Linked DNA regions of Homo sapiens. The protein of the gene in region 1 purifies or fractionates together with the protein of each later gene. This does not show direct contact. Each region holds a gene or a part of one and is shown in the gene's direction. Other genes may lie near its edges. The genes, in order: VCPKMT and UBXN6.

The links.
Region 2: the proteins of VCPKMT (region 1) and UBXN6 purify together in Homo sapiens (affinity purification with mass spectrometry; 4 studies listed by BioGRID and IntAct, with this or other methods). This does not show direct contact.

What each region holds. Positions count from the first base shown.
Region 1 is NC_000014.9:50,108,121-50,113,859, reverse strand, and holds the end of VCPKMT (protein N-lysine methyltransferase METTL21D), read left to right. Parts: intron 1-347; coding exon of another isoform or gene 348-350; exon of another isoform or gene 351-1,140; coding exon 1,141-1,245; exon of another isoform or gene 1,246-1,774; coding exon of another isoform or gene 1,775-1,918; exon of another isoform or gene 1,919-4,146; coding exon 4,147-4,161; 3' UTR 4,162-5,223; downstream 5,224-5,739. UniProt on the Homo sapiens protein: Protein N-lysine methyltransferase that specifically trimethylates 'Lys-315' of VCP/p97; this modification may decrease VCP ATPase activity.
Region 2 is NC_000019.10:4,444,207-4,447,798, reverse strand, and holds the end of UBXN6 (UBX domain-containing protein 6), read left to right. Parts: exon of another isoform or gene 1-173; coding exon 174-249; exon of another isoform or gene 250-611; coding exon of another isoform or gene 612-694; exon of another isoform or gene 695-878; coding exon 879-963; exon of another isoform or gene 964-1,079; coding exon 1,080-1,299; exon of another isoform or gene 1,300-1,385; coding exon 1,386-1,516; exon of another isoform or gene 1,517-1,601; coding exon 1,602-1,750; exon of another isoform or gene 1,751-2,175; coding exon 2,176-2,301; 3' UTR 2,302-2,793; downstream 2,794-3,592. UniProt on the Homo sapiens protein: May negatively regulate the ATPase activity of VCP, an ATP-driven segregase that associates with different cofactors to control a wide variety of cellular processes.

The sequences.
Region 1 (5,739 bases):
ACTGCATCCTCAACCTCCTGGGCTCAAGTGATCCTCCTGCCTCAGTGTCACCCCCCCCCCCCCCCGCCCCCAAGTAAGTGGGACTATAGGCATGTACCACCACACCCGGCTAACTTTTTGTATTTTTTTGTAGAGATGGGGTTTTCCCATGTTGCCAAGTGATAAGTTTTTACTTCTGTGTTTTTCTCTACATATTTATGAAACCTCCAACCTAGATACCTGTCTATTTTTAGGGTCTTTTTTTTTGTTTTTTAAACTTTTTGTCTGAAATAGTTAGAAAAGACTTACAGGAAGTTGCAAAATATAGTATATAGGGTTTTATGTATCTGTCACTCTTCTTCCCCTAGTGATCACCCAAACCCTTATATGGGCACAAATCTATCACATTGTGAGTGACTCCTTTTGAGGGTACATCTATATAGGCCTGCAGTTTTGTCTGCTGGAAGGACTACTTTGGTTTAATGAGAAAGCAGGTATATGACTGCCTCAGGTAACAAATACTAAAATGTTTGTTTATTTTCATGTTTTTCTTGAATATGAAAAATGTTCATGAACTTTTGAAATGATGCATAATGAAAATTTCGTACTGTTAAACAGCTTTTATTGGGGTAAAGCATATGTAAAATGCATATGTATCAGTCAAGTGCTGAGCTTAATTTTTCATATGTATACACCCAAGTAACTACTTACCAACATAAAGATAGAGGACATTTTCAGGATCTTGGAAGGTTTGCACACTGCCCTTTCCCAGGCAATACTCAAAAGGTAACCACTGACCAGGCGCGGTGGCTCACGCCTGTAATCCCAGCACTTTGGGAGGCCGAGATGGGCAGATCATGAGGTCAGGAGTTCGAGACCAGCCTGGTCAACATGGTGAAACCCTTTCTTTACTAAAAATACAAAAATTAGCTGGGTGTGGTGTCGTTTGCCTGTAATCCCAGCTACTCAGGAGGCTGAGGCAGGAGAATCACTTGAACCCAGGGAGGTGGAGGTTGCAGTGAGCCAAGATCGCACCACTGCACTCCAGCCTGGGTGACAGAGTGAGACTCTCAAAAAAAAAGTAACCAGCATTCTGACTTCTGTCACCCACAGGTCAGTTCATATTATTGAATTTGAAGTATGTCTCTTTTAAATTTATAGCTCCTTCAGCTAGATTTTGACTTTGAAAAAATTCCTTTGGAAAAACATGATGAAGAGTATCGAAGTGAAGATATTCATATTATATACATCAGAAAGAAAAAATCGGTAAATAACATTCTCAGTTCTTCATTCTCCAAGGAGGTTTCATCAGCTGGACACTATTTCAGGGCATATGTGTGGTATGGGCGTTGATTTTGATGTGGAGAAACAGCTCTAATGATTCACTGGACTCAGGCAGTAACTTCATTGTCAAGATAATTTAATCTATCTTGCCTTGGGTTTTTGCTCTAAAGCCAGGCTTTTTTTTTTTTTTTTTTTTTTTTTCTCGTATTTTTTAAGTAGAGACACGTTTCACCGTGTTGCCTAGACTGGTGTCGAACTCCTGGGCTCAAGTGATCCGCCCACTTCGGCCTCCCAAAGTTCTGAGATTACAGGCATCAGCCACCATACCTGGCCAGGCTTCGCTTTTAAAGGCCTTTTCCAGCTTCTCCATAGGCGTAAATTGTATAGCTCTATAATTGGGTATTACCTCAGACAAGTTATTAGCTATTTATAAGTTTCTTTTATCTCTGTGAGATTTTAAAATGCCTGCTCTTACCTTTGTGAACTTTTCCTTATTAAAAATTGTTTACAGGAAATGAAATACAACAAGGCAGATGAGTCCATAAAAGATAAATGCACTCAATTAAGTAGAATTTATGTATTTTCCCGCTTCTTGGTGCATGTTTTACCCTGTATAACAATCACATTTTATGCAGGTTGCCTCAGTGACACCTAGGGTTTGAGCCTGTAGAAAGAGGGAAGAATTGTACTTCATCCTTTTTTTTTTTTGAAATAGGGTCTCACTCTGTCATCCAGGCTGGAGTACAGTGGTGCAATCTCGGCTTGCTGCAGCCTCTGCCTTGCAGGCTCAAGAAGTGATCCTCCCACCTCAGCCTCCTGAGTACCTGGGACCATAGGCATGCACCACCATGCCCAGCTAATTTTTGTATTTTTTTTGTTGTTGTTGAGACAGGGTTTTGCCATGTTGTCCAGGCTGATTTTGCACTCCTGGACTCCAGTGACCTGCCCACCTCGGCCTCCCAAATTGTTGGGATTACAGGTGTGAGCTGCTGCGCCTGGCCTTTCATCTATTTTTGTATTTCCAGCACCTTTGGTATATGTGACTAGTGTAAGGCAGGGAGATGATTAGTTTTATGAATTAAGGATGCTAGATTCAATAAGCCCACACTTTTTCTATCATCTTTGCTTTGATTATGTTTGTGGTAAAGTTTTCTGATTATATGAATTCTAGTCAAAAGCAAATAAAACTTAGGGAACAGAAGTAGGTGTTAGGACTAAATCTAAGTAAAAAGGCAGCAGCGGGATTATTCAGATTAACATTTATGTGGCATGGTGCCACAGATACAAAAAAAACTGTTTTGTGCTTTAAGGGATCTAGTGTTAACTGAAGCTGTTGTGCAGTTTTAAAAGTAGAATTTTTTGGAGGCAGAAAGATTTTGTGTTTCCTAAATATAGAGGCTTTTTTTTTTTTTTCGGCCAAAAAAAAAAACTCTTATTTTTTAGTTGATGTAACTCACATACCATAAAATTCACGCTTTTAAGGTGTACAATTTGGTGGTTTTTAGTATATTCACATAGTTGTGTAAATTACCACTTTCTAATTTTTAATGATTTCACCCCCCAGAGAAGCCTCTTACCCATTAGCAGTCACTCCCTGTTACCCCCGTCCCCAGCTGCTGGCAGCCACTAATCTCTATGGATTTGCCTATTCTGCACATGTCATATGTAACAAGTCACATACTGTGTGGCCTCTTGTGACTGTCTTCTTTCACTCAGCACAGTATTCTCGAGCCTTATCTACATTGTAGCACACATTAGCACTTAACTCCTTTTTGTGGCTGAATAATATTCCTTTATGTGGCTGTACCACACCTTATCCATCCATTGATGAGATGAATAATGCTGCTATGGACGTTCATCTACAAATTTTTGTGTGAACATGTTTTCAGACCTCTTGAGTATATACCTAGAGGAGAACTGCAAGGTTATATGGGAACTCTGTTTAACTTTTTGAAGACTTGCCAAACTGTGTTCCTAATCTACCATACCATTATACGTTCTCACTAGCAGTGTATAAGGGTTCCAGTTTTCTCCACATTTTTACCAACATTTGTTAATTATACCCATCTCACTGGGTATGAGATAGTCTCTAAACTGTGGTTTTCATTTCTCTAATGACTAATGATGTTGGGTATCTTTTCTGTATTTAGAAGAAATGCTTGGCCCATTTTCAGATTGACTTATTTGTCTTTTTACTTTGAGTTGTGAGAGTTCCTTATACATTCTGAATACTAAACACTTACAGATGCATTATTTGTGAATATTTTCTCCCATTCTGTGGGTTGTCTTTTCATTTTCTCAATAGTGTGTCTTGTATTTTCTTAATTTATTATTTTCTTATTTTTCTTTTGAGACAGAGTCTCGCACTGTCACCCAGTCTGGAGTGCAGTGGCATGATCTTGGCTCAGTGCAACCTCTGCCTCCCAGGTTCAAGTGATTCTCCTGTGTGAGCCTCCCAAGTAGCTAGGACTAAAGGCATGTGCCACGACGCCCAGCTAATTTTTTTGTATTTTTAGTAGAGATTGGGTTTCACTAGGTTGGCCAGGCTTGTGTCGAACTCCTGGCCTCAAGTGCTCTGCCACCTCAGCCTCCCAAAGTGCTGGGATTACAGGTGTGAGCCACCACACCCGGCCTATGTTGTGTCTTTTGAAGCACATATATTTTAATTTTGATAATGTCCAATGCATCTGTTCTTTCTTCAGTTGCTTGTTAGGTGTCAGCAAAGAACCATCTATAAACATGCATGGTTGTTCACTTGAATTGCATGTAGCCACTGTTATACTAGGCATACTAGGCATTATGAGGCATATTAGGCATTATTAAATACCCAGTAAATAGTTTGTGGTAAATCAATCTTTTAAGTTTCCTTTTTTTTTGTTATAGAAATTTCCATCGTGAAGCCTTTAATCATCTTACCCAAGGCTCTAACAACCTGGGTAAACTAAAGATGTGAATAGAGCATGTGAATACAGCATGGGAAGATTGTGTTCACAGATTTTTTTTTCCGGCACGTCCTTAGAGATCCGATGTATAGATGATGACCACCAGGGGCTGTCTGCAATACGAAAAATTCCTGCTTGCCTGCCTGCCTGCCAATGGCCCTGAATCCAGCTTAGGTTACTTAGTTCAGCATCAAGTTCTTCTTAAATGTTGGGAATCAGTTATTCAAATAAAAATTGGTATTGAGGCGAGGCTGAAATCTGCCAAAAACAGCCAACATGATTTGACTGGACCTTTTACAGGAAGCTAGAGATAAATTTCTGAAGAGAACTATCTGCTATTATATAATAATGTTTTAAATTCAAACTAGTAAATTTTAGTTTGTCTTCAGAGTTTAAAAGGTTTTCATTTTGTACATAATTATACAATATTTATCATTTGTATTTTCCACTTCATTTCTTTTAAAATATCTTTAATACTGAAATGTTCTTTTAATTTTAAAAAGAACTGAGATATTGTCTTGTATACTTATATTAGCCAAAGTTTTCTTTTCCTCCACCATACATATCTATGTGATTTAATCAGTAAATTGTACTGTAATGAGTTGCTAAGAAGACAAATCAGAAGATTGGAGGAACAAAAGATATCTTTACAGATTTTTCATTTGAGCATGGAGTGAGAATAGAAAGACCAGTTTCAGGCTTATGCACTTACGTGGCTCATGCACTTTATGTATATGTTCCAGGAAAATCTGGCTTAAAAATACTGGTATTGTTTACATGAAGCAGTGAAAGGTTTTTGAATAACTACAAATGTAGTTCTATATGTATATACCAAATGAATTTCTGTTCTGTGTCTCTCTGTTTTATGTTATGAAGCCATTCGCTCATATACAATAATCTGTCAAGGACTTTAATCATACTTGTTCCAAAGAGTAGTAACCGGATGGAATTCTGGTATTTATAGGCATTGGTGCTAGATGGTACATTTTATGTGTTAAAATAAACATTGTTTTTGAGACCTTGTGACTGTGAATTTCAGAAATACCTTTGAAGAAAGTGAACATCTAAACAGTTAACAGGAGCAAAAGCAGCCCTATTTAGAGACATTAAGGATACAAGTCAAGAAATCAGTTCATTCCTTTCAGGTTTATTTCAGTCTTAAAAGTTTCCTTTGCTGGTTTCCCCCCCGCCAAGATACTTTGTTCATACTGTCCTTAGCATTTCATTAAGCAGTTTGCAAGGCAGTGTAACCTAAATCTGTGGTGCTTTGTGAGGTACAGATAGTGCTAGCTGTTATTAATGATGTCTTAGGACAAATGACCACTTTTTAGCTTGTTTTATAACATGAAATTTGTAAAAATAAGTTTGACCTTGACTATAATAGTCCACCCAGGTTCCTTAAATGTCTTTTCACCCTCCAGTTTTTATGCCCTCCTGCTTTCTCTTTTTTTTTTTTTTTTTTTGAGACAGGGTTTTGTTCTGTTGCCCAGGCTGGAGTGCAGTAGTGGCACAATCTTGGCTCACTGCAACCTAC
Region 2 (3,592 bases), on another chromosome or scaffold:
CGAGGTGTGCCTTCCACCCGGAGATGGTCTGCTGCCCTCGCGTCACTGGGCCGCTTCTTCCCTCTGACTAGAGGCCAAGTGTGGCTGAGCTGCTGTTACCTGGAGCAGGAGGCACAGAGGGGCCGGGTGGGCAGCCTGGGCTGTGCCCCACTCACCTTCTCCACCTACCCCAGGTACCTGGACAACATCCACCTGCACCCCGAGGAGGAGAAGTACCGGAAGATCAAGCTGCAGAACAAGGTGTTTCAGGTGGGCGTGCCTTCTGGCCCCCGGGGCCCAGGCTGGGGGTGGGGGCAGCTGGCCTGCAGGAGCCGGTGGTGGCCCACACCAGGCGGTGGGCTCCCTGGAGGAGCTAGCGAGAGTTGAGCCACAAGCAGTGAAGGGTTCGGCCAGTAGAAGGTAGCAGGACAAGATGGAGAGCAAGACTTTTATGCACCGGTCACCCCAAATCAACAAATTCTGCCTCTCCTCACCTGCATCCTTTTCCTCCTCTTCAGCTGGGCTTGTTTGGGAACATGTCGACTCTGGGGAGGTTTCTCATGCAAACCAGATGTCTGGTTCTTCTGGGGGAAAGGGCAGGGACTGGGGTCCTGGGCGGTGTTAGCCTCGCATCAGGCCCCAGCAGTGTCTGGCTCCTCAGCCTCACTCTTCGTGCCTGGTTGTGACTCTTTCCTCTGTGCAGAGCTGTTGGAGACTCCACAGCCCCCACCGTAGAAAAGCAGGTTTGCATCCAGCACTGAGGCACCCCCAGGGCTGGGCCCCATCCAGGGGTCGACAGCTGCTCCCAATAGCGAGAGCCGGGCCCCTGGACTGGGTGGGGTGTGGCCAGGCCATGGAGGAAGCCAGGGGCCCCCAGTGACGCCCATCTCCACCCCCAGGAGCGCATTAACTGCCTGGAAGGGACCCACGAGTTTTTTGAGGCCATTGGGTTCCAGAAGGTGTTGCTTCCCGCCCAGGATCAGGGTAAGTGGACAGGGCCTGGCTGAGTAGGGAATGGGGACGAGGGGCCTCGGGGCAGGAGGGCCCGGCTTGGGGGTCTCTCCATTGCACAGTGACACCCATGTCCTGCCACGCTGTAGAGGACCCCGAGGAGTTCTACGTGCTGAGCGAGACCACCTTGGCCCAGCCCCAGAGCCTGGAGAGGCACAAGGAACAGCTGCTGGCTGCGGAGCCCGTGCGCGCCAAGCTGGACAGGCAGCGCCGCGTCTTCCAGCCCTCGCCCCTGGCCTCGCAGTTCGAACTGCCTGGGGACTTCTTCAACCTCACAGCAGAGGAGATCAAGCGGGAGCAGAGGCTCAGGTGGGCCTGACGTCCGCGGAGCAGAGTGGGGCGGGGCGGGGTGGAAGAACCCCGGCCAGCCCTCGTGACCTGGCCCGCGTGTGCAGGTCCGAGGCGGTGGAGCGGCTGAGCGTGCTGCGGACCAAGGCCATGCGGGAGAAGGAGGAGCAGCGGGGGCTGCGCAAGTACAACTACACGCTGCTGCGCGTGCGCCTCCCCGATGGCTGCCTCCTGCAGGGTGGGCACCAACGATGCCCGTGGAGGGCGGCTCGGGTTGGTAGGGGGCCCTGGGCCCCACCCGCTCTGACTCCCCCACTCCCCAGGCACTTTCTACGCTCGGGAGCGGCTGGGGGCGGTGTACGGGTTCGTCCGGGAGGCCCTGCAGAGCGACTGGCTGCCTTTTGAGCTGCTGGCCTCGGGAGGGCAGAAGCTGTCCGAGGACGAGAACCTGGCCTTGAACGAGTGCGGGCTGGTGAGTGTCGGCCCGCAGGAGCACCGCTGACCCGATGCCTCTGCAGGTTCTCCTGGGACCGGCACAGACACCCCCAGGAGGGAGCCTCCTTGTTCTCAGAGCAGGGGGCCTGGGCAGGTCCCTGGGTTTGAATCCTGCTTTCCCACTTACTGGCAGCAGGGCCTCGAGCAAGTTCATAACTACTCCACGCCTCAGTTTCCCCATCAAATGGGAGCGGTGACGTGCGTTAGCTAGTGCAGTAGGTTTAGGCTTAGGTCCTGGAGTCCCGGAGGGAGAGGGCAGGAGGCCTGGGTGCGAGCCACAGCCTCCACCAGCTGAGATGGCTTCCAGGCCGGGGCATCCCCGCGCCCAGGTTGCCCGCTGAGTTCCCTGCCGCGGCAAGGGCCGACTCTCGGTCTCAGAGTGACGGCCTACCCCTACCGCAGGTGCCCTCTGCCCTCCTGACCTTCTCGTGGGACATGGCTGTGCTGGAGGACATCAAGGCCGCGGGGGCCGAGCCGGACTCCATCCTGAAACCCGAGCTCCTGTCAGCCATCGAGAAGCTCTTGTGAAATAAAAGCAGGGTTGGCCTCAGCCCTGTGGGTCTGTCTCATGCTCTCCCTGTTCCTCTCCCCGCCACCCCAGGGCCTCCAAGCCACCTCTGGAAATACTTGGCTCTGCCCCATGGGCACGGGAGGGGCGCCAGCCGTGGAGCTGTGGAATTGGGCCCCGTGGCAGAGCCCCCATCCCTTGGGGGCTGTGGGGATGCGCCCAAGCCCCCGAGGGAGAGGCCTGGGGACACCAACAAATCTAAGCCCTCCCTAGCTGCTTGGTAACTGTGTCATGAAGCTGCCGGACAGACACACGTGGCATCTCCCTGGGCAGGAGAGCAGGCCTGCAGCATGGGTCCTGTTCCCGTGTGCCGTGGGTGGCAGTGGCTGCACCTGGCACTAGGGCTGCTCTGTGGATGTGGGTGACAACGGCAGGAGGGGATGCTGGCCTTCCTGCACATAGACCTGCAGTTAGTAAATCATAAGCCCAAATAAACAGGTTGTTTGAATATAGTTTCTTGGTTCTCCGTTGAAACCGTGGGACACAGGGCAGGCCCACCTGCTGAAGAGCGGATGGCTTGGGGGCTGGGTGTGGCTCCCTGTCAAGGTGGGACCATGTGGATACCTGTTCTCAGGCCAGCACCTGGCCACAAGTGCCCGATGAGCCACCCACCTGGGGAGGAAGTCCCGTGCGCTAGGGGAGGCTGTGCTGTGCCCACAAAGGCCCAGTCCCTGCAGGGGAGGCGAGTGCTGTCACAGGCCTGGCTTCCCTGTGGCCAGAGGGACAGGGTGTCCTGAGACGGCCACATCCTATTCCTGGAACCTGCAGATGCGCAACTTCACCTGGCAAGAGGGGCTTGGGTATGATGAAAGGTCTTGAGCTGGGAGATGATCCTGGGTGGTCCGGGACCCAGTGTCCTCACAAGAGGTGGCAGGAGGGTGAATCAGAGAGAGACTGGAAGAGGCTGCGCATGGCTGTGAAGGTGGAGGAAGGGACCCCGAGCTGAGGGATGCAGCGCCTCCGAGCACTGGGAAACTCTCCAGGAGGGCCTGGTCCTGCCCACAGCTTGATGTTAGCCTGGCGGGGCATGTGTGCACTCTGACCCCCAAGCTGTGAGATGGTGACTTGCTTTAAGCCACCAGGTTTGTGGTACAGCAGCCCCAGGAGACACAGGGACTCTGCCCTGCAGTGTGGAAGGCATGTGTGCCCCGGCCCCACTGCTGACTTGGGGATGCAGGTCTGCACCTGGGGGAGGTGCCCGGGGCCTATGCTCGTGCCCCTGACCTTGCATTGGTCCCTCCCTCGCCCCCG